7 linked regions of the Homo sapiens genome follow. The protein of the gene in region 3 interacts with the protein of the main gene of each other region in a biochemical or structural test. Each region holds a gene or a part of one and is shown on either strand. Other genes may lie near its edges. The genes, in order: CSPG4, SLC34A1, SYNJ2BP, SLC17A1, GNG4, HDAC7 and KCNJ12.

Region 1 (3,500 bases), on a different chromosome or scaffold from region 3:
CCTGCCCCGAGCCAGCAGCCCCAGGGAAAACCCCCAAAATCAGGACACAGTGCCTCGTTCCCCCGCCAGGGCAGGCCCTCTGGCCTGGGCCAGTCCACTCTCTGGGGAGACAGAGGGGGCTGGGGAGAGGAGACGAACTTCCGTTCCCACCTAAGAGCAGCCCCTTCCCCCACCCACATTTCAGGAAGGGGCAGCTATAAATACCAGTGGGACCAGGACACTGATTCCCACGACACCCGCTTCTCCCTGCCCCTTCCCTGTGCACAGTTGCTGGGGCCAGACCAGCTCTCCTGCAGCTAGAGTCCAGCCAGGCAGGCCTGAGGCCTAGCCACACACACACAGAGACACAGACATACGCACACAGGCACACACAGACATAGATACACACAGACATACAGACACAGACACATGCACACAGACACACATACGCACACACACACGCACACAGACATATACACACAGGCACAGACACACACATATGCACACAGACACATACAGACACAGATACACACACACACTTTTACTTCCCACCCTGGTCAAGGAGGAGCAAATCACCCTTTTTGGGAGTCTGCGAGCAGCTGAGAGGGAGCCCCTCCCCTGCCCCTCAGCCCTGACCCAGGCCCCATCTCTCCCTCCTCTGAGTCCTGAGCTGTGGGAACCCACACAGGGAAGCAGGAGGCCAGGCACATGGTGGTGAAACACGGCATTAGAGAGCTCAGGTTGAATTCCAGCCCTGACGCTCTATGCATGACCTTGGGCAAGTGACTCTGTCTTTCTGAGCCTCAGTTTTCTCCTCTCTAAAATGGGGATAAATAATTCCAACCTCTTACGTGTTGTAAGGATTAAGCAAGACACTTTGCCTGGAATCAATGCTCGGTGGACATCTGCTCCTGAAGCTGCAGTCACTCTGCTATTAGCATCTTCTTCCCAGGGTGGAGTGGCCCGGCAACATGGGGACTTCTGCTTAGGAGTGTTTAAGGAAGATTCCGAGGCAAAGGCCTAGAGGAGGTGGCCCCGTGAGTCTGTGTGGGACTAAGTGACATGGAAAAGGAGAGGTGGGCTCTGGAGAGGGTATCAGCCAGCGGCTGCCTGCCAGCCCAGGACCCTTCAGAAGGTGGGAGGGGGTGGGGGTCTGCATCTCTGTGGCTAACTGGGCTGAGGCCCACACCCCTCTCTCAGTGCTAGAAGAAGTGGGGACAGCCCCTGCCTGGCCCTCCCCAGGGCCTGTTTCTCCCAAGCCTAACAGCCCCTAGGATGGGGCTCACTGGGCCGGGGCACAGCAGGAACCCCCTGTCCCCAGAGCAGGTGAGTGAGGAGAAGAGAATGAGCAGGCCCCAAGACCTTTTATGGGACGGGGACCCTAGAAGCCTGTCTTTTCCCTGCTCTCTACCAACCCCTCGCGAGTCCCTCTCTGGAGGTGGGGGCTGGAGGCCAGGGCCCAGGGACGTGGGACAGCTCACCTGCCAGAGTCACCATGGGGCTGTTACCACCACTCATGATATAAGCAGTGGTGGCTGCATCACGAGGAGCAGAAATCCGGACTGAGGGAGGGGACAGCCCTCTCCGCTCTGGGCTGCTAGGACCCCTCAGTGGTATGGGTGTATGTGAGCTCAGAGTAGGGGGAGGTGTGGGGAGGTGACTGAGGTGACTGCAGAGTGGGGTGCACAGCTCGGGGCAGGGACACTGGAGGGACCCCGGACAAGGGCAGGCCTGTGCCTGAGCCCTCAGGGCAAGATCCCATTGTGCAGGCCCCCACTGCCTTCACCCACGTAGAGGTGACTCTTCTCCACAGACCCCTGGACAGGGCCCGGCCAGGCCCCCCACCCACATGTTTTAATGGAATCCAGGTGGCTGCCCCTGGCCAAGGTTCCATCTCTGGGCATCTGGGGCCCGTGTGCTTCTGGCCACCCATCTGGAGCCTGGCTGAGCCCCTCCAGGGGTGGGTACTCAGACGGGGGCTGTCCCTCCAACCGTGGACAGCCCTGGGGCCAGCGAGATATTGTAGAGGCCTGAGCCAGCTGGCTGATGGTGCCACAGCCCTTGGGCTACCTGGCCCTGCTATGTGGCCTTGGGGAGACCCCTGGCCCTATCTGGGCCTCTGGGTGGAATCTTCAGTCTCCTAGGTCAGCTCTAAATTCTGAGCTTGAGCCTCTTGGGAACAGGACAGGGGCCTCTGCCTCTATCTAGAGAGAGCCAGCTGCTTGTCCTGGGCCAAGCAGCAAGGCAGGCTAGGCCTGGAATGGGGCTGAGAAGCAGCCCAGCCTGCCAGGACTCCCTGGCATTGGAAAGCCACTTTCCTAAGTTGGCATGGAGCCCTGGGGCTCCCCCCGGGATGAGAGCAGCGGCTCCTCTCCACCCCCGGCTCCCATCTTCCACCCCCTGGCCCCAGCCCCGCCCTGCCAAAAATAAACCCAGACCACCCCATCTTGTACCAGCCAGACCCACCCAGCCCCTCCAGAGCCAATTGAGTCACCACTCAGAGCTGCTCCTTTTTTAACTGTCTGAGTCACTGCTTGTGGCTCCATGACACATGCCCCAGGCTACGGTTACCCCACAGCCCCTACAAGCGCAGCCAAGGGAGGGGTCTGCGTAGAGGCTGGCAGCAGGTGTGAGTCCAGGCCATAGCCTTAGCTTGTGAGCCCTCCAGGCCTAGGGAACTCACTCCATAACAAGCCAGAGACCAGACCTGTCCCTCAAGGTCCCGGCCGTGCCCAAGACAGCCCTTGGGGATCTTGGTGACAAGGTCAATCTGGGCTCTGCCCCACCGCATTGCGTTGCCTCCAACAGGCCTGGGCCTTCCCCGTGGAGACTGCCGGGAACGGAGGGTCTCCAGCCCCTAGACCCTGGAGGCTGGGGGTGGGCGAGGCCACAGAGACGCCTGCTTCCTCCCTCCTCACCGGCTCCACCCGGACTCTGACCACGCTGCCTGGAGCACCATGAAGACTCTATGGGACGGAAGCCACACTTCAGTCTCCCCTCACGGCTTCTGTCTGCCCCTGCGCAGGGTCACCCGGGCTGCAGAGCACCCCCGATCTCTCAGTCCATCCCCCCATCCCGCTCTCTCCATCTCTCTGTCCTTTCCCACCCCTGGCTGTGGTTCCTCCATCTCTTTCTGTCTGTCTTTCCTACCCTGTCTCTCTGTCTGTCTGCCCATCTCTCCAGTCCTGCTCTGTTCTCCTTCCCTTCTCCTTTACCGGGTTCCACGGCAGTCAGAAGTGCTCCCTGCCGCCAGCACCCCACCCGTCCCCAGGGCCCTCTCTGCCTTCTCAGTAGACATAACAGACCCTCACCTCCTCCCATTCCCACAAGGGACTCTGGGCCCCAGGGACCAATCCTGAGAAATGTTCCGCTCCCCTCACCAGGTCCTCCCGTGCCCCAAAGTGCAGGCTACATCCTGTCCCAGGGAGTGTCAGGATCCCACAGGCACTTCCTTGGGGGTTGACAAAGGCGGGCAGGGGGGCCTGGGAATGGCCCCACCTCCCAGTCCATGCTAGAGCAGG
Region 2 (4,072 bases), on a different chromosome or scaffold from region 3:
AATCTTTAGAAGTGGTGGCTGTGTAAATCAGCAGCATTTTGGAATTATATCTCTTGATGGATTTGATCGATAGCTAACTGCCTCCCCCACTAAACCCAGAGCTCCGTGACAGCAGGGAAGGCAAACTTCAAAAATATCAAAAAGCACAACCTTATTAAAAAGGAGAAACACCCCCAGTTCACCAGGAGCACCTTGGATTCAGCTGCTCCTGCCAAGGGTCTGAACTGCACGGGGGAATGGAGAGAAACAGGTCACGTGGGCCGGGGTCTCTGGGCCCGCTGTGGGGGTGTCAGTTTGCTCATAGGTGGAGACACTCGATGTGACATTAACAGCACCTTCAAGCCCAAGGACCCAGAGATTCTGACACAAGAACTGAGAACTGATTGCATTTCCGTGACTCAGCGACACCCTCCTACCTGGGCATGAACCCAGCCCTAGCCAAAGATCCAGAGACCCGACTCCCATCTATTTCCTTTTCCTCTCTCCCTCCCCGTCACCAATTCTACTGGTCAGATGTCCCTGGGATGCACCTGTCCTCCCCAGCCCCTCCGTTCCCATCGGAGTTCAGGCCTCATCATCTCCTGCCTGGACCATTAGCCTCTTAACTGGCCCCTCCGCTTCCAGGCTCCCTTCCATATATCCGGGTTCCACCCCGGGGGCCATTCTAAAAGGCAGATCAGGCCCATCCCAGTCTGGCCAGCGGCTCCACATTCACTCAGACTCACATCCTGGACCCATGGTCGGGCATTAGAGACCTGCCACGATTCAACATTCCACGGCCTTTCCAGCTTAGGTCCTCATCTCACACTCCCTCTCCTCTGAGCTCCCCCTGGGAGACTTACAGACACCCCGACGCTTGGCAAGGCCATAGGATGTTTTTGTTTGGTTTGGTTTGGTTTTTCTGAGACAGTCTCACTCTGTCACCCAGGCTGGAGTGCAGTGGCACGATCTTGGCTCACTGCAACCTCCGAAGGCCATAGGATGTTTGGGTCATTCCCTGGGGAGTCCTGTCAGGCCAGGAACGAGGGGACCCTGGGAACAAGGTGCTGAGTGGCATCAGGGTCTCTGCCTGCAGGCGGGGGATGTGTCTGGGTCGTGGTTGATGGGAAGAACCTGACCATAGATTCCCCATGCAGAGCTGACGATTAGCAATTAACTGGGAGGAATCTCAGGGGTGAGGTTAATTGGGGGACAGAGGGAGGGCAGCTAGGGTTCCAGGGACTTTGCCCTTGACCCAAGAGTATAAAGAGGAGGGTCTCAGTTCTCCTCAGGGTCCTGGAGGCTTCATTGAGCTGCTGAGCAGAAGCTGAAACACAGAATTCTAAGGTGAGCCCAGGACCCTCACATCCCAACCCCACCCCCAGCTCTGAGTAGGAAACAGCCCAGCACCCCAGCCCCTTCATCTGTGTCCTATCTGCGCCCACCCCCACCGCGCCCCATATAACATGTCAGTCCAGCCAATCGCGGTGGCTCCCACCTGTAATCCCAGCACTTTGGGAAGCCGAGTGGGCGGATCACCTGAGGTCGAGTTTGCACTAAAAATACAAAAAATTAGCCAGGTGTGGTGGCAGGCACCTGTAATCCCAGCTACTTGGGAGGCTGAGGCAGGAGAATCGCTTGAACCCACGAGGCAGAGGTTGCAGTGAGCCAAGATTGTGCCACTGCACTCCAGCCTGGGCGGTAAGAGTGAAACTCCATCTCAAAAAAAAAAAAAAAAAGGACTCCTGCTCCTTCAGGACTTGAATTCAACTCTTCACACCCCTACAACAGCCAAGGACGCTGGGACAATGCGGGGAGTGCTGAGGCAGATCAGGGCACTCCACCCCAATAGCCAAGACTCCTGGGGCAGTGCGGGGACAAGGGGGGGCTGAGGCAAGCCTGTCAGTGTTTGTTCATTGCCCCTTGAGGGGGTGGATGGGGAAAGGAATTCATTGTGAGGGGAACCCAGGAACTCGGGATCCGGCCCAGGGGATCTCCGTGTGTGCCCAGCTGACCCCATGAGAAGGCAGGTGTCTGCAGCTCCTCCTTGCTCTCCAGGTGGGCAAAACTGAAGCCCGGCCCAGCCCCAGCCCACACCTGCAGCCACTGCCAACACCACGTATTCCCTGGCCCCCTCCAGCCCCAAACAGGCTGGGCGTCCTCAGTTCTCAGTGTCTTTTATCAATGCTATATCCAAGCCTCTGGTTCGGAGCCTGGGCTAGAGCTCAATAATACTCATTGAATGAGTGAATGGTGAATGAATGATCACCTCACCACCACCACACACACCCCTCCGAGACTCACATGCAGGTGCCCAGCACAGATGTGCACATGTGAGTCTGCATGTGAGTCTCGGAGGGCTGTGGTGGTGATGATGGAGGGTGTGGTTTGCTGGGTGTGTGTTTGTGCGTGTGAGTCTCGGAGGGGTGTGTGTGTGTGGTGAGGATGGAGGGTGTGCTTTGCTAGGTGTGTATTTGGAATCATGCGCCATGGGGGTTTGTGCAGGTGAGGGTGTGTGGGCATGAGTGTCCCGGACACAGCTATTGTCATTCAGCGTTGCTGAGACCCACTGACCTGCAGACCTCATAGTGGGTGCCCAGGATGTTGTCCTACGGAGAGAGGCTGGGGTCCCCTGCTGTCTCCCCACTCCCAGTCCGTGGGGGGCATGTGATGCGAGGGACGGCCTTTGCCTACGTGCCCAGCCCTCAGGGTAAGTGCTGCTCCCACACCCTGGACCCTGGTTGCCCACGGTTGCCCACATCCCGGATGAGGCCACTTCCCCCGCCTGTTCCTCCCCGCCTCCCCACTTTGGGGCCCTGGGGCTCCTGACCAGGCTCCCTCCCTAGTCCTACACAGGATCCCGGGGACCTCTGCCTATGCCTTCCCCAGCCTGGGCCCTGTGGCCCTTGCTGAGCACACCTGCCCCTGTGGGGAGGTCCTGGAGCGCCATGAACCACTGCCTGCCAAGCTGGCCCTGGAGGAGGAGCAGAAGCCAGGTGGGCCTGGGCTGGGGGTGGCAGAGGCGGCAGCAGTCCCTGCCCTGGCCTCTGCCCACTATGCTCATGGCTTCCCCCATCCAGAGTCCAGGCTGGTCCCCAAGCTGCGCCAGGCTGGCGCCATGCTGCTCAAGGTGCCACTGATGCTCACCTTCCTCTACCTCTTCGTCTGCTCCCTGGACATGCTCAGCTCGGCCTTCCAGCTGGCTGGAGGTAGGGCCCGGGTGGAGGAGACCTGGGAGGGGTTCCTGAAGGGCCTTGGACAACGCTGGCTCATGCTCCCCAGGGAAGGTGGCTGGTGACATCTTCAAGGATAACGCCATCCTGTCCAACCCGGTGGCCGGGCTGGTGGTGGGGATCCTGGTGACCGTGCTGGTGCAGAGCTCCAGCACCTCCACATCCATCATCGTCAGCATGGTCTCCTCTGGCTGTGAGTTGGCCCACCAGGGTGGGGAAGAGCTTGGAGGGGCACCCCAGGAGCTGGGAAGGGTGGCAAATGGGGAGCGTGACCCCAGTAAGGCTGGCCTCCATTCAGCTTGACTCCTGTATCAGCCAGGGACATGAGAGGAGCCCAACTGTAGCTGTATGTGACCCAGATGATTTATGGCAAGGAACTGGCTTCCCCGATGGTAGTTTGTCTGGGCAAGTCAGGAATCCGTAGGCCAGGGCATTGGAAGGGCAGGCGGGAACTCTCAGGTGGGCGCCGACACTGCAGTCCAGACAGGGCAGCGTTTCTCCTTTCTCAGGGAAGCCTCAGTTCTGCTTGAGGCCTTTCATTCTATTGGATTAGGCTGACCCAGGTTACCAAGGATAATCTCCTTTTCTTAAAGTCAGCTGACTGTAGACGTGAATTGCATCTACAAAACACCTTACAGAACACCCAGGCTAGTGTTGGGTTGAATAACTGGGTACCACAGCCTAGCTAAGTTGACACATAAAACTAACCATCACTGGCCGGGCGCAGTGGCTCATGCCTGTAATCCCAGCACTTTGGGAGGCTGAGGGGGGCAGATCACGAGGTCAGTAGATCGAGACCACCCTGGCTAACACGGTGAAACCCTGTCTCTACTAAAAATACAAAAAAAAAAAACAACAAA
Region 3 (3,046 bases):
TATTCTTATAACAGCCAACTATGGTGAGTTATTATAAGGTAAATTGCCATAATCCAGCGCTGCTCACATCTAAAAAACTTTGAGGTGTAAAGGTAAATCGTACCAATCTCTGGGCTGCCCTAGTGACTTTTTTGATACCTCAGAGTCCTATTGAAGAACCAGGTGGAATGATTGTGGTAAGGGCTATAGTGCTGGAGCCAAACACCCCAGCAAGAAAACTCTAAAAGGACAAAAGATAAGGTAGTGCCTCCAAGGTGGCACCTGAACCCTCTCAGGCTACTTTTTGGTTTCTACTAACAAACCTGAGGGAAGGAACTGCCTCCCTGGCAGGATGGGCATCAAATCAACTCTGGCTTCAGATTTAGTTAAAATGAGGCCGGGTGCAGCGGCTCACACCTGTCATCTCAGCACTTTGGGAGGCCGAGGCAGGCAGATCACAAGGTCAGGAGTTCAAGACCAGCCTGGCCAACATGGTGAAACCCCATGTCTACTGAAAATACAAAAATTACCTGGACATGGTGGCGCGTTCCTGTAATTCCAGCTACTCAGGAGGCTGAGGCAGGAGAACTGTTTGAACCAGGACCTGGGAGACGGAGGTTGCAGTGAGCCAAGATCACGCCACTGCACTCCAGCCTGGGCTACAGAGCAAGACTCCATCTCAAAAAAAGAAAGGCATGGATTGCTAGTATTTTTGAAAGGCTTTATACACTACATACGGCTTTTAATAAACCTTTTTGCAGCAAGAGGGAGGAAAAGAGTTTTGTTTGCTTTAGGAGGTAGGGAAATGTGGTAGGTGTTTCATGCGGCCTAGGAGGAGGATATGAATGAATGGATACTATGGAATGCCAGTGATCTCGATAAGGTGGGAACCATCCTGTTCATGTTCTTTTAAGGCTGGTTTTAAGCACTATGGGTAGCTGAATTTTCTGGCTTTAAGAAAATCATTTCCATTAGCCAAATATATTGGCCATACTATAGGCCTTTTATAATTTTGTTAGCAAGATTATCAGGACTCAGGCAATCAACTGTATTTCATTTCTAGCTTGGACAGTCTGGTAATTAAATGTTGATTGGACATCAGCTTTGTCAAGACACTTTTACAAAGAAGTACAGTGCATATCCTCCATCCCATAGGGCTTTTGGGTTCCAACTGCGAAGACAACACTCTTATTGGCCACATAGGTAGGACAGTGTAAGTAGGGGTCATGTTTATATTACAGACAGCAAAAGAGAAAAGTTACTGAGAACTGGGGCGTTTGAGAAAGTTACGTGGAGGAAAGGGACAAGTTGAAGACCCTTAAGGGCCTCACAGCCTAGTTAAGAGAATTCATAAACAGGTGAGAAGTTAAAAGTATATCAGCAGGCTAAGTATTGAAAACAATATTAAAGGGGTACCATGCAAAACACGATGCAGCAACAAAGAAGATATGCAGGTAATCATCACATTTTCTTTTAGAAATTCAGGGAAAAAAAGATGTCACATAATGGCATCAGGCTCAATTGGAAAGGGAAGGCTTTTGAAAATAAGAGGTCCGGTAAGACCTTGCCTCTGGGTCACTACTGGTATAGGGAGAAACTTGCTTTAAACAGTCCTGACATAAAGTGCCTTTTGACATCAACTATTCAATACCTTTGAGACTCACTTAGACAACTGGACTCATTGTAGGTTCCACAGAAAAACACGGACAACATTCTAGTTGTCACTCCAACCAGCCACACTAGGAGGGCACAGCCTCTGGTACCCTTTCTGTTCCTGAAGGCATGTACAGCGGCTTCTACAGCAAGCTTGCTTACCTCCCAGGATTCACCTCATGGTTTGGACACTGATTCCTGAGAGAGCCTTGAGACACACAAAGTGAAAAAAATGTCAAGCAGGAATGAAAGCTCTAGTTTTTTGCTTGTTGGTATATGTAAATTTGTTTAAAAAGTATCCATTCTGTCGTTGGTAGAAGTTTTGCTTTGGTTGATAATAGAGATTCTGATGTACTCTTATAACTTAGGTTTTCTCAGAAATTAAGTAGCATTGAAGATCAATGTAATACAGTTTTAAGCAGGTACACTAATTATATTATTGATTCTATAGAAAACTAAAATTATAGATGAGGTATCAGGATCCATTATAGGTTGTAAAAAAATTCATGTTCTTCATAGATTGAGTCTAATATTTCTTCTATAGATTGCATCTAATGTTCCTACTACCTAAATTATTACGTTCAAAGTTTTGAAAATTGAACGAAGGTATTTTTAAGTACTTAAAACATTTCTCTATCATTCTGTATTACATGTATAATTATAAGATATTGTTTGCTTCAACTAGCTGTACTTTGTTTTCCTGTGAAGTTTCAACTTATGTGTTATCGATTTAACTTAATTGTTCCATCTAGCCATGTATAATGGAAAAAGGAAGTTAATATTTGTTATTGTGTTCTATGCCAGGGACTGTACCAAACTCTGATTGGTACATTATTTCATGTCTCATAACTCTGGGATCTAAGTATTGTCACAAAGAGACTAAAAATGAGAGAAAAAATTACTTGACTAGGATTATGTAGGTGGTAATAATAGAATCAGGATTTAAACTCAGGACTTCAGATGCCAGCATCAATGATATTCTCTCACTGGAAGTGGTTCTCAAAGCAAGGTCCTGACAAAAGCATCAGCGTTACTGGGGAACTTGTTAGAAAAGCAAGTTCATAGGCTGGGCATGGTGGCTCATGCCTGTAATCCCAGCACTCTAGGAGGCCTAGGCAGGTGGGTCACTTGAGCTCAGGAGTTTTGAGACCAGCCTGCACAATGTGGTGAAACCCTGTCTTTACTAAAAGTCAAACAAATTAGTGGTGCATTCCTGTAGGCCCAGCTACACGGGAGGATTGCTTGAGCCCAGGAGACTGAGGTGCAGTGAGCCGTGATTGCTCCACTTCATTCTAGCCTGAGCAACGGAGTGAGACCTTGTCTCAAAAACAAAAAAACAAACAAACAAAAAACAAAAAGCAAGTTCCCAGAAGAGAAAAAAGAAGTTCCAGACCTAGTGAATCAAAAACTCTGA
Region 4 (2,319 bases), on a different chromosome or scaffold from region 3:
GAGTCATACGGCTCTGAAACAGTTCAGGTTACATAAAAGTTAAAGCCTCAAGAGAGTGTAGATGAAGAAAGGCTTTGTAAGAATTTTAAAATATGTGTTTTCTCTCTAAGATCACGAACAAGACAAAGATGTCTACTCTAGCCACTTCTGCTCAACATTATACTAGGGGTTCTATACAGGGCAATTAGGCAAGGGAAATAAATAAAAGGAAACTAGATTGGAAAAACAGAAGTAAAACTATATCTTACAAATGATATAATCTTGCTTACAGAAATCCTAGGAAATCTACTAAAAATATTAGAACTAATGAGTTTAGCAAAGCTGCAGGACACAAGATCAATATACAAAAGTCAATTATATTTCTATACACTTGCAATGAGCCATCCAAAAATGAAACTAAGAAAACAATTCAATTTCAAGTAGCATAAAAAATAATAAAATACTTATAAATAAGTTTAACAAAAAGAGTACAAACTTATATTCGAAAACTTCAAAATATTGTAGAAAGAAATTAAAGAAGCTGTCTTAGCTAAGGCTGCTATAACAAAATACTATTACCTCACACTATTTTTAAAAACCATCTCAAAATGAATCAAAGACCTAAATGTAAGAGCTAAAACAATACAACTCTTAGAAGAAAACTTAGGGGTACATCTTCATGACCTTTGACTTGGCATTGATTACTTCTATATGACAACAAAGCCACAAGCAATAAAAGAAAAAATAGATAAATTAGACTTCATAAAAATCAAAAACTTTGCTTCAAACTTTGCATCAAAGGACATTAACAAGAAAGTAAAAAAAGACAACCTATAAAACGGGAGAAACAATTTGCAAATCACATATCTGATTCTTATCAGTCTAGTATTTAGAATATCCAATACACTCTTATAACCCAACATCAAAAGACAAATAATTAAAATGTGGGCAAACACACTGAATATATATATTTCTGTAAAAAAACAGAAGAATAGCCAATAAGCACATGAGAAGATGTTCAACATAATTACTTATTAGAGAAAAGCAAATCAAAACCATAATGAGATGCCACTTCACATTCACTGAGATGGCTACTGAAAAAAAAAGAAACATAACAAGTGTTGATGAGGATATGGAGAATTGGAATTCTACATTGCTGGTGAGAATGTAAAATAGTCTGATGCTGTGGAGAAGAGTTTGGCAGTCCCTCAAAACGTTAAACCTAGAATTACCACATGACCAGCAACTCCACTTGTAGGTATATACCCCACAAAATTGAAACATATCTTCACATAAAAACTTGTACACACAAATGCACATAGTGGTCTATTCACAGCAGCCAAAAGGTGTAAACAACTCAAATGCTCCTCAGTGGATTAATGTATAAACAAAATGTAGCATAGCCATACAGTCGAATACTACTGGGCCACAAAAAAAGAAGGAAGTATTGCTACGTGCTACGACATGAGTGAACTTTGAAAACATGTCAAGTGAAACAGGTCAGTCACAGACATATTATGTAATTTCATTTACATGAAATGTACAGAATAGGCAAATCAATATAGACAAATTATATCAATGGTTGCTTAGAGCCTAGTCTGTGTTTGGGTGGGCCCATGGGTCAGCTGTTGGCTTTCCTGAGGAATCTGGGAGTGAGGGGCTCTGATTTTCCACCCGAGGAACAAGGCAGAAAGACACTGACCACTGCATTTGAAGTGGACAAGACCTCTCCATTTTGTTGGACCAGAGGCTACATGCGTGTTTCCCATGGATTAGATGCAGGTCACAGAGGACTGATAGCCAGGCCCAAGGGACCACCTAGAAGGGAGAAGGGATATCCACAAAGGGAGATTTGTGTGGAGTGGATCTGTGATGCCAAGGAGATGGGCAGCTGGAAAAACCAAGTGCATTTCCTGCCTTGTCAGCCTCTTATGCATGAAGAAAAGGGTCTGCTTTCAACACCTACTGGCCCAGGGAGCATGTGGGCAACTGACAATGGGGCCAAACAAGCCAGAAATTTCCATGCCTGCTTCCCCTCCTTTCTCTCCTGGTCACACCTCAGGAGGGGTCAGAGGTGGGGTCAGCATCCTAGCGGATGAGGAGAAAAGCCAGACAGAAGAAAGTGCTCACACCCCTCTCCCTGAAGGAGAAGGTCCGCCTGCAGCTTTGTCCCAGCTGGAGACACAGGGAAGGAGTCTTGTATGTGTATGACATTTGACTAGCTAAATTCCATATTTAAATAAATATTTTCAGTTATCTAACTGGGAATGTATGCTTGCTATTTAAAGTGACCACAGTACTTTTTACTACCTAAGAGGGCTTAACAAGGAAATAAATAAA
Region 5 (3,500 bases), on a different chromosome or scaffold from region 3:
CTGCAAAGGGGCCTTTAACTGAGCACCTGTGCTCTGTGCCCTCACAGGTCTCCCAGGCAGCTGCGGACCTCCTGGCCTACTGTGAAGCTCACGTGCGGGAAGATCCTCTCATCATTCCAGTGCCTGCATCAGAAAACCCCTTTCGCGAGAAGAAGTTCTTTTGTACCATTCTCTAACTCCGTGTGTGATGAAAACGCCTCCTTTTCTGACCTTCAAAGTCCCCTGTAGAGACCATGCATGCTCTAAGCCTTAGGGAGTGAGACCAACACCCATCCCTGCCCAGCCAACAGTGGCCGGGGCTTGTCTTATGTTTCCATCTGTTTTCTTCGTGGCATTCAATTTCATTTTTTTCCTTTTCATTTTCATGTTATTTTCATTATTGGCAAAGAAAATCAAAATGTTTATAGCCAAATAACAAATGTGCCATGTAAAAGTAAGTCTGGACTTAAGAGTTTAAAATTTTTAAACATCAGTTTCCAAGTTTATATCATATTAATACATTTCAGTGGATAATTTATTTTAAAAAAAAAACTATGCCTAAATATCCCTTATTTGCAATATTCAGTATCAAATTAGAGCATTTTGACCAACTGAAACATATAACGTTTTCATCTCCTTTCCTGGAGAAAGCAGCTGCAGAGGTTCTGTATTTCCTGCATTTCCATCATCCTAGTAAAAAGACAACAACCCACAGGATTGGAATGGTTTTCTTTTGTTTTTTTTTTGTTGTTGTTGTTGTTTTGAGATGGAGTCTCGCTCTGTCACCCAGGCTGGAGTGCAATGGCGTGACCTCAGCTCACTGCGACCTCCACCTCCTGGGTTCAAGCGATTCTCCTGCCTCAGCCTCCTGAGTAGCTGGGATCATAGGCACGCGCCACCACACCCAGCTAATTTTTTGTATTTTTAGTAAAGACGGGGTTTCACCATGTTGGTCAGGCTGGTCTCAAACTCCTGACCTCGTGATCCACCCGCCTCGGCCTCCCAAAGCGCTGGGATTACAGGCGTGAGCCACCACACCCGGCCGTGGAATGGTTTTCTTAGCATATCCTCCTGGGGCCGTGGCGCCCCGGCTGTGGGCCGTGGTGGATGTCCCTTGTTTCAGTGGTCCTACAAAGGTAGATGGTGGGCGGACACCGAAGTCAACTTGACTGTAAAAGTACCCCATACCGTTGACGCGCTGTGGCAGACCTGTGGGTGCGGTCTCCCCTCTCCAAATGCCACCTCTTCCTGCTCCCTCCTCTTTTGGCTCCTACTCAGTAGTTCCATTGTGGGCTGCAGTAATATAAGGACCTGTTCTGGACACAGCACTGGGCCCGCTGGGGTTTTAGTAGGGCAGCCCCTTCCCTGCAGGAGTGAGGCATGGTGACAGCAGTCCCCTATGTGCCCCCAAGTCATCTGAGCATTGGTGTGCATTAAGGTACTCAATCTTCCAACAATAAATACCATAAGTGCATGTCTGTTTTATTTTATTTATTTATCTTTTTGAGACAGAGTCTTGCTCTGTCGCCCGGGCTGGAATGCAATGGCACAATCTCAGCTCACCGCAACCTCCACTCGCAGGTTCAAGTGATCCTCATGTCTCAGCCTCCCTAGTAGCTGGGATGACAAGCACACGCCAACATGCCTGGCTCATTTTTGTATTTTTAGTAGAGACGGGGTTTCACCATGTCGGCCAGGCTGGTCTCCAACTACTGGCCTCGAGTGATCTGCCCACCTTGGCCTCCCAAAGTGCTGGGATTGCAGGTGTGAGCCAGTGCACCCGGCCGTATGTCTTAGAGTGAGGGGAAACTGAGGCACAAAGCGTTTATGTAGTTTGCCCAAGGTTACACATGGTAAGCAGAAAAACTGGGATTTGAGGGCAGGCAGCCCGGCCCCAGAGTTCCCTTAGCCCCCTGAACTGTGCTACCTTCCAGGTCTACCTGTTTGCAGGTAGGGAGACCCACAAACTATCATAACTGCACACCGTGAAGCAAACACCTTTGTTGCAGTAACCCGTGGCACACTTCACTTCCCACATTCTCCAGGAGGAAGCCGTATTCTGGTAGTTTAAGGAAGGTGATTCATGGATGCCCCAAGGAAAGGCTAGACATCGATGAATTAGCTCTTGGATTGTCTAAGATCAACCTGAAGGTCCTACCTAAACCAAACTCATATGATCCCGATGAAAGAGGAGAATACACAGTGGGAGCAGAGCTCTTTGTGTAAGTTTGTTCTATTCTGTTTATTTGGAAACTGCCTCTCTCCCTAGTTCTGAAAGAGACTTGCTGTGTGATAGAGAACAGGCCATTTGTGCCTGAAATGTTCTAACCTGCAAATTGGGTTTAATGGTAATTATCCTGCCTTTCTGTCTGGGAGGAAACAGAGATGCTACATAGATGAAAGCTCTGATTATCATTTAAAACAAATAAATGTACTAAATGCCGTGGTATAATATAGGGAAGAATGGATGACTTCAAAGAGACCATGGTTCCGTTGGAGGCATAAAATTGCCTGCAAAGAGGCAAATGTAATTTCCAGACCAATTAATGACTTGCTGCCCTCGTAAATGGATTTAGGACATCTTTGTTCCTTGCTTCTTTTGTTAAAACTCATTCTTAGTTTCATTATCAGCTCACTAATAATACCAGTGTTGTTAAGATGCTCAAACTAGAGCAGAATTGTATGCTGGATGTGACGCTAGGACCTCAGATCCTTTGATAGTGCAGTTATGACCAGGATCTCTTTATTCTGTGCTTCACGTCAACATCATTAACCCGATGAAGCGAAGCACAAGTCATAAAGGCACATCAGAGAAGCCGAGAAAGCGGGGCCGTACAGAGAGCATCAAAATCAGGTCAGAAAAATGCTGCTTTCCTCTTCCACCAAACCTTCTCCCTGTTGTTTTTACATGCCCCGTCCCTCCAGATTCAGCCTCCGTTTTGTTCTCTCTCCTTTTCCTTTTCCTCCTCTCTTCCTTACCTTCCCCTGTGAGATGCTTTTCTGTCCTTTTACTGCACCTCTTCCAGACCTATGGCATTTGGGGACGGGTCACCCTTCCTAGAGTGATCCTGAATCCAGCTGCCTCTTCTTTTTTTGTTTTTGTTTTTGTTTTTGAGACAGAGTCTCTTTCTGTCGTCCAGGCTGGAGTGCAGTAGCGCAATCTTGGCTCACTGCAACCTCTGCCTCCTGGGTTCAAGCGATTCTTGTGCCTCAACCTCACGAGGAGCTGGGATTGCAGGCGCCCGCCACCACACCCGGCTAATTTTTGTATTTTTAGTAGAGACGGAGTTTCACCATGTTGGCCACGCTGGTCTTGAAGCCCAGACCTCAAGTGATCCGCCCGCCTTGGCCTCCCAAAGTGCTGGGATTACAGGCATGAGCCACCGCGCCTGGCCTAGTTCCCTCTTCTTAGATGGAGATTTCTGCACATGAGCTGTGAGATCCACAGACATGTCACTGAGCTCCCCCACTCTGTCAGTGGAAGATGAATGGAATAAAGCCTGCTTGCATTGTGGAGTGCA
Region 6 (3,500 bases), on a different chromosome or scaffold from region 3:
CAGGAGGAGCAGGGCAGTCTGGGAGTGACAGGTTCGGAAAGAGTCTGGGGTGGGGGAATTCGGCGATTGGGCTGTAACCGTCTTGTTTTGCTTGCCCCACAAACCTGCACGTCCGGGACGTCCGCTGCGCCCTCCCAGGCGCGTTCAGGTTATAGAACTGCTCTCAGAATGACAGGCTGGTGGCACCCGGCTGGGGCGGGGGGTGGGGAGGTGAAGGGGGGAGCCCCAGGCAAGGGGGAGCTGGAGGGTTAAAAATAGCAGCAGCCTTGTTTCGGTTAGCAAATGTGGAGGCGGGGAGCTGGAGGCGGGGCGGGCGGCGGACGATGTTTGCCCGCAGCGCAGGGCTGTGCTTCCCCTGGGTCCCGGGAGTGAGTCACGGCGGAGACGCTGAGGAGGTGCTGGCGCAGCACCCCACCCCCACCGGGCGAGGGGCTGAGCGCAGGCCTCGCCCCCCAGATTCCAGCGCTGAAGGAGGTGTGACTCTCCCTTCCAGGCAGCCGGGGCCGCCTTGAGAGTGAGCCAGGGGCATCGTGTGATAATAGGGAAGAAATGTGCCATTCTGACGCCAGAGATCTGGGTTTGAATCTTAGTCGAAAGGTGTGGGATCTTGAGTAAGGATGCTGATGGCTCTGAGACTCGATTTCCTAGTTTCAAGTGGGGCTTTTCTCTGTGCCCCACTTAGTGCTTAAAGCACTCTACAGATGTTAATTATCGCCTTAGACCCTACTGTATATATGGCAAAGCCTGGCAGGAGAGCTTCCTGTAAGGACGCAGAGGGAGGAATGGGATGGCCTTGGCTGAGTCTCGGTTTCTCCTGCAAGTGTGATTATGGGCACATTTTGCTCTGTGCCTCCACTTCTTCATCTGTAATGTGAAAATAATTACAGTTTCAACTTTATGGAGTTGCTATGAAGATTAAAGGAGATAATGTAAATAAAGTTAGCTCTGTGCCTGGTATGAAGTCAGGGCTCACTGAATATTCATCATCATTATTAATGTTATTGTTCATATTTTTTGAAGGTCAGGGATAGGGAATGTTGCAGACACGAAGAACAGAAACTGGGCCTAGCCCCAGTTCACAGAAAAAACCAGGCCAAATCCCTGTTCCAGATTCCTCCACCCATCGCGGCCTGGAACAGCCAGAGAGCTGTAGCCAGAAGTCATAGGGTGGACCCCTGCTTCTCTTGTTCACTCCCTCTCCCAGCCTCTCCCAGTGAGGCAGGGCGAGGAGGGACCCCAGGGCCTTGAAGCCAGCTGGCCCTGGAGAGGGGCTGCTGTGCCAGCTTGGGGAGGGTCTGGGATGGGGCTGCCCCTGATGGCCCTGATGTGGAGTACCTTGCCAGCATCTGCTGGGGTGAACTTTATTTTAGCCCTTCCCTTGTTGCTCTTATGAAGAACAGAGGAGGGGTGGGCAGGTCAGTGATGTCAGCAGTGAGTATTCCCAGCACAGCGGCTCTGGAAGAGGCATGAGGCATTTCTTTCAGGAAATGATCATTATTCAGCCAGAAGGCATTCATTAAGTAAGTCCTGACTTTGTGCCCAGCTCTGTGTTATAGGCCCTTGGCGAGACTCAGGAGGGGCAGAGGACGCTAGGTTGTAGATAACACGGAACCTCAGAGGATATATGGTCCAAGAAGACCCGGGGGCGGTGAAAACCCTGTGGACTAATGCTCACGGGAGCCCGAGGTCACACTTTGACTTTGCTACCATGGGCTGTGTCTATGTACGTATATATGCTGCGTAATTATTACAGAGGCAGTCCATGTGCATTGTGGATACTCAGACAGGACAGACCAGCAAAAACTAAAAAATAAAAAACATCACAGACGCATCAGTCAGAGATCACTGCACATCTTTCCATTTCCGTATGTGTCTTTATGTGTTGTAATTTTTATGAAAATGAGATTACTCTGCATATACTGTTTTTTCAGTCAGTGATTTCCACCTTCCATTACAGTAAATTTTCATCTTAACGGAATTCCCAGTTGGCCAGAAATTGTCCTTACAGCTGGTTTGTCCAAATCAGTACCCAGGACCATGCCATCTGTCTGTTGAGTGACCTGAAGGCAGTGTAAGCACCCTAGCTGGATTTGTGATCTGGAAAAACCCCTTCAACCAAGTCTCAAGGGCAGCCTGGCTGCAAAAGGGAATCAGGTCACGTGGAGAATCTGCCCACTAGACTTCTGCTGTCTTCCAAAGTAATAGGCAAAAGGAGGGGGATTCTAGGGCACCACTGGGATGGGACCTCTAGGGTATTTACTGTCATTAATGTTAATGTGGCATCCCTGTGAGTGTCAGGATTCACAGCTTGTGGCTATTCACATCCGAGATGCCTCAGTTCGGTTTGCCTGGTTCTTACTGAGTGCAGACCAGGGTCTCCATTGTGGCTTCTGCCTTCCTCTGCCCCAGATCCAGGGATGCTGATAGCCGTGCGGCTGTGTTCCTAGTCCCCAGAAAGTGGCCCTGAAGGTAGGTGCTCCCTTTTGCACTTGTGGGTGCTTCCAGCGCTTCCACCTGCCCAAGGCCTGCCCGTGAGTGAGAGACAGAGATAGAGATAGAGAGAGAGAGAGAGAGAGAGAGAGAGAGAGAGAGAGAGAGACCTTTTCCTCCCAAGAGAATTTACCCCCGAGTACCCACTCTGAGGGTGACTTGCTCTGGTTATGCAACCCGCATTTTGTAGAGGGCTTGACAGTTTCCAGAGAGCTCACGCAGCGTTTGATCCTCTGTGGCAGCCCTGGGAGGTTTGCTTGTTTAGTTATACCCTGCTGGAGGCAGCTAACAGGAAACACTGTAAAGTGTTTAAATGGTACACTTTAAAATGGTAAAATGTACATTTAAAAAGGAAGGGAAATAGAAGATGAAAAAGGAATTGAGGATGGCAGGGGTGGAACACAGCACACTTTGTGGGAACAGGCTGGCATTGGGAGCATACCCTAGGGCCTCACTGTGTCTTGCATCCCCTTGTCCCCTTGGTGGTCTCACCTCAGCCACTACTAGGAGGCAGGCTGAGTAAGCAGTCCACGCCAGTGTACCGATGCTAAGCTTAGGTTCTGGAGTCCCAGCAGCTCCACATACCATCTGTGTGACCTCAGCAAGTTTCTGAACCTCTCTTAGCCTTAGTTTCCTCATTTGCAAAATGAGAATAATAACAGTATATAGGCCGGGCGCAGTGGTTCACGCCTGTAATCCCAGCACTTTGGGAGGCCAGGGTGGGTGGATTCAGTGAGTTCAGGAGTTTGAGACCAGCCTGGCCAACATAGTGAAACACCGTCTCTACCAAAATACAAAAATTAGCTGGGCATGGTGGCTTGCACCTGTAATCCCAGCTACTTGGGAGGCTGAGGCAGGAGAATCACTTGAATCCGGGAGGCAGAGGTTGCAGTCAGCTGAGATTGTGCCACTGCACTCCAGTCTGGGTGACAGAGTGAAATTCTGTCTCAAAAACAAAACAAAACAAACAAACAAAAAAACAGTATCTGCCTTACAGAGTTGTGAGGACT
Region 7 (3,500 bases), on a different chromosome or scaffold from region 3:
CAGGGATACTTCTCAGCCCTCCCTGCCTCCACCCCAAGGGTGTACAGGAGGGTGCGACGTGACACCTCCACTGTGGGAGCGGGCAGCCTGAGGCCAGAGAGGGTCCCCACAGCCGGAGGTCACACAGTTCCCGGAGGAAGGCTGGGGCGCAGCCTTGAGGCCACAGACCCTCTGTCCCTGATGCTTCCAGGCAGCTTTTGGGGACTTGGCAGGGGAGGGGCCGGGGAGAAGGGAGCATGTGGAGACTGAGATGTGTATGATAGAGAGGATGAAAGGCCGGGGGCAGGAGAGGTCAAGGGGGATGGAGTGGCCTGGTGGCCGGAGGTGTGCCCTTGCCCCTGCCCGCCCCGCTTGCTCCAGCTGCAGCCGGGCCCGAGCTGGCGGCTCCAGGCCTGCAATTCTCCAGCACTTAAAGCAAAAATAAATCGCTGCCAGCAGCTGGCGTTCTGTGTGGCAGCAGCCGAGCCAACCCCGCCCCGACCCTCTGCCTCGGGGCTCCTGGTTCCGGGCCAAGCCAGGCTTCCATTCAGGGCTGGGGGGCGCCGAGGCCAGAGAGGGTCCAGGGGAGCTTGGCGTGGCCGGAGGGGGCGGGTCCTGGCATGATCACAGGGAGGGCAGAGGCAGATGGAGACCTGGGGCTTCCAGGGGTGCTGGGATCTGGGGCAGGTTGGGGATGCTCAAAAGTGGGGCTTCTGACAGTCTTGGGTCTTGTGGAAATAGGGCCTGGGAGGGGCAAACTCAGGGGTCACAGCCACCTGTTTGGCCCTGGGGATCCCCAATCACAAGCCACCCCCAGCCTGTCCCCTGGATGTCCCTTTCTTTCCATCCCCTCCTTTCCCTTCTCAGAGAATCCTAGAGGTCCTAGAGGTCAGGTATTTGCGTGGTGAGCTTTGAGGATGCAGGATTTTGGCCTCATTCCTGAGCTCAGCAGGTGGCTGGGGATGTGGCCTGCACAAGACCCCTGCCCTGGGGGGCTGACATCTCAGTGGGTGGGGCAGGATGAAATAGACAAAAAACACATGAGCCATCACGGGCATTGTCATATTTTGTTGAATATAACAGTTTTTAATTATAAGAGTGTTATGTGCTCACAGTAAAGTGATAAACAGTTGTAAGGGGAAAAGTGAATTTCTCCTCCTCACCCCCTGCCTCCCCCACCCCCAGAGTTTCTTGTCCTTGGGGTGACCATCATTAGAGAGGCTTCTGGGTTTCTCAGTGCTTATGCAGACGTGAATAAGTAAATGGAGGCATAGAAACGTGCTAATATCTAAGTTGCCTTTTTTTAAATTCGTATGGGACCATTGCATACATGTCATGGCGTCCCCTGCACTATGCGCACTGCTGTGTGGTGCCCGTGCCCACTGGACCCAGGGGGTCTCATCCTGTCGTCCTGGGCATGGATTGAGGGCTGAGTCTTGGGACTGTAGGATCTTTGTGGCATCTGAATGCACAGAGCCACCGAAGTCCGTGAGTCATGGGTTCTTTTCGTTGTCATTTTAGCTGCGTTGAGACAGAGATCCTGGATTGCAGGATTTGGTTTAAGTACCAGGAGAGGTACCGAGTCCTCGCCTGGGTGCCTCCTTCGTCACATCCCTCTGGGAGTTGGGATAATCCAGATCCCCTGCCTCCATCCCCAGAGCTCAGAGGGTCTGGGGGGCTTCAGAGTCGCAGCCTGGGGCTTTGGGACCTCTGGGTGAACCTGGCTCCCACTCAGGGCAGAGTAGACACGCTGGAGCTCGGAGGGGAGGCGCTCATTGCTGCTCCCACTGGGGTCCTTCTTCCTTTAGCCTCTCTTCTTCCCTTAGCCCTGACCTCCTAGAAACAGGATCACTTGTTCCCTCACTGTCTTCAGGCTGGGGCAGGCCTCTGTGTGGGGAATGTCACTTTGTTTTTTTTTTTGTTGTTGTTTGTTTGTTTTTTTTTTTTTTTGTTTTGAGACGGAGTCTCACTCTGTCGCCCAGGCTGGAGTGCAATGGCGCGATCTCAGCTCACTGCAATCTCCGCCTCCCGGGTTCACGCCATTCTCCTGCCTCAGCCTCCCGAGTAGCTGGGACTATAGGCACCCACCACCGCGCCCGGCTAATTTTTTTTTGTATTTTTAGTAGAGACGGGGTTTCACCGTGTTAGCCAGGATGGTCTCGATCTCCTGACCTCGTGATCCGCCCGCCTCAGCCTCCCAAAGTGCTGGGATTACAGGCGTGAGCCACCGTGCCCGACCCAGGAATGTCACTTTGACCTGTCTCCAAGCTTCCGCATCTCAGTGCCTGTCCCATCCTTGTCATTCCTTGGAACCTGGCCTGAGATGCATCAGGGTGGTCCCACCTTACTCCACCAGGGCCCCTTATTAGAAAGGATCTGCTACACTGATTGGGAGAGTGACTAGTCTGTGGTCACTCTCAGTATCTGTCTCAGTGTCTGTGGGGATCAGATATACCTGGTGCCCTTCTTTTATGAGCCTCACTTTCCATGTTTGTGAAATGGGGAGGCAGTCCATTCTCGTGTCTGGGCATCTGTTCTCTCCTTCCCTCTGGGCTTGGGCACTGCAGGCAAGACAGGGCAGCTTCCTGGCCTCCTTGATCCCTATTCTGCTGTGTGGCCGGAGGCTCGGCCCTGCCATCACCCCGGCCTGCTGGGCTGCAAGCTGTCAGCAGCACCTGCCCAGTCAGAGCGGCCAGGTCCCTCCCCAGGCCCTGGGAGCCTTGAAGACCACTGGAGGCAGTGCCCCAGGAGGTAGCCGTGGAGTGGCCCCGGCCCTCCCTGGGGGTTGTGTAACAGAGGAGACCCCGCTGCCCTCCTCTTTTCCTCTGCAGGGTGGAGGCTGGCCTGGGCCCTGCCAGCACAGCCTCCAGGCCACTCATGGGTCCTGGCCTCCATCCCACGGTAGATGCCCTGACTCTGCAGCACCAGGGCTCATGACCAGGCTCTTGGTGGCCTTAGGACCAGCTGCCGCTGGGTGGGGATGCCCCAGATCAAAGGCAGGTAATAGAGAGGAGACTGGGAGGACAGTGGGTGGGGAGCAGGAACCCTGGGAGCCTCAGTGTCCTCCCCTGTGAAATGGGAACACTAGAGAAAGTGGGTTGGGCAAACCCACACGCCTACCATTGCATCTGGGGTGTGGAAGGAGCACTGGGGCAGGAGTCTGGCAGCACCACCAACCAGGTCCAGTAAAGAAAGCCGAGGCAGGGATCAGAGGGCGGCAAGCCAGTGAGACCCTGTGTTGGTTTCCTGCTGCTGCCACCATAACAGACTGGGTGGCCTAAAACAGTACAAATGCAGCATCCGTTCTGGAGGCCAGACGTCTGAAACCGGTGTCTGCAGGGCTGGTTCCTCGCGGAGCCTCTGAGGGAGAAGCCATTCTGGGGCTTTCCCCCAACTTCTGGGGCTTCTGGCGGTCCTGGCATTCCTTGGCTTGTGGGCATCTCCAGTCTCTGCCTCTTGTCTTCACATGGTCTCCTCTCCCTGTGCTGCCTCTCCCTCTCCTCTCTCTCACTCTTTCTGTT

Evidence for each region.
Region 1: the proteins of SYNJ2BP (region 3) and CSPG4 interact in a test that uses a peptide from one of them, tested with the Homo sapiens proteins (one large-scale study listed by IntAct).
Region 2: the proteins of SYNJ2BP (region 3) and SLC34A1 interact in a test that uses a peptide from one of them, tested with the Homo sapiens proteins (one large-scale study listed by IntAct).
Region 4: the proteins of SYNJ2BP (region 3) and SLC17A1 interact in a test that uses a peptide from one of them, tested with the Homo sapiens proteins (one large-scale study listed by IntAct).
Region 5: the proteins of SYNJ2BP (region 3) and GNG4 interact in a test that uses a peptide from one of them, tested with the Homo sapiens proteins (one large-scale study listed by IntAct).
Region 6: the proteins of SYNJ2BP (region 3) and HDAC7 interact in a test that uses a peptide from one of them, tested with the Homo sapiens proteins (one large-scale study listed by IntAct).
Region 7: the proteins of SYNJ2BP (region 3) and KCNJ12 interact in a test that uses a peptide from one of them, tested with the Homo sapiens proteins (one large-scale study listed by IntAct).

The regions. Positions count from the first base shown.
Region 1 is NC_000015.10:75,702,849-75,706,348, reverse strand, and holds part of CSPG4 (chondroitin sulfate proteoglycan 4 precursor), read left to right. Parts: intron 1-3,500. UniProt on the Homo sapiens protein: Proteoglycan playing a role in cell proliferation and migration which stimulates endothelial cells motility during microvascular morphogenesis. May also inhibit neurite outgrowth and growth cone collapse during axon regeneration.
Region 2 is NC_000005.10:177,383,162-177,387,233, forward strand, and holds the start of SLC34A1 (sodium-dependent phosphate transport protein 2A), read left to right. Parts: upstream 1-1,272; 5' UTR 1,273-1,326; intron 1,327-2,533; 5' UTR 2,534-2,580; coding exon 2,581-2,689; intron 2,690-2,825; coding exon 2,826-2,975; intron 2,976-3,059; coding exon 3,060-3,188; intron 3,189-3,261; coding exon 3,262-3,405; intron 3,406-4,072.
Region 3 is NC_000014.9:70,369,045-70,372,090, reverse strand, and holds part of SYNJ2BP (synaptojanin-2-binding protein), read left to right. Parts: 3' UTR 1-3,046. UniProt on the Homo sapiens protein: Regulates endocytosis of activin type 2 receptor kinases through the Ral/RALBP1-dependent pathway and may be involved in suppression of activin-induced signal transduction.
Region 4 is NC_000006.12:25,784,734-25,787,052, forward strand, and holds part of SLC17A1 (sodium-dependent phosphate transport protein 1), read right to left. Parts: intron 1-2,319. UniProt on the Homo sapiens protein: Important for the resorption of phosphate by the kidney. May be involved in actively transporting phosphate into cells via Na(+) cotransport in the renal brush border membrane. Plays a role in urate transport in the kidney.
Region 5 is NC_000001.11:235,548,785-235,552,284, reverse strand, and holds part of GNG4 (guanine nucleotide-binding protein G(I)/G(S)/G(O) subunit gamma-4), read left to right. Parts: intron 1-47; coding exon 48-176; 3' UTR 177-3,500. UniProt on the Homo sapiens protein: Guanine nucleotide-binding proteins (G proteins) are involved as a modulator or transducer in various transmembrane signaling systems.
Region 6 is NC_000012.12:47,809,904-47,813,403, reverse strand, and holds part of HDAC7 (histone deacetylase 7), read left to right. Parts: exon of another isoform or gene 1-323; coding exon of another isoform or gene 324-474; intron 475-2,450; exon of another isoform or gene 2,451-2,469; intron 2,470-3,500. UniProt on the Homo sapiens protein: Responsible for the deacetylation of lysine residues on the N-terminal part of the core histones (H2A, H2B, H3 and H4).
Region 7 is NC_000017.11:21,382,857-21,386,356, forward strand, and holds part of KCNJ12 (ATP-sensitive inward rectifier potassium channel 12), read left to right. Parts: intron 1-3,500. UniProt on the Homo sapiens protein: Inward rectifying potassium channel that probably participates in controlling the resting membrane potential in electrically excitable cells. Probably participates in establishing action potential waveform and excitability of neuronal and muscle tissues.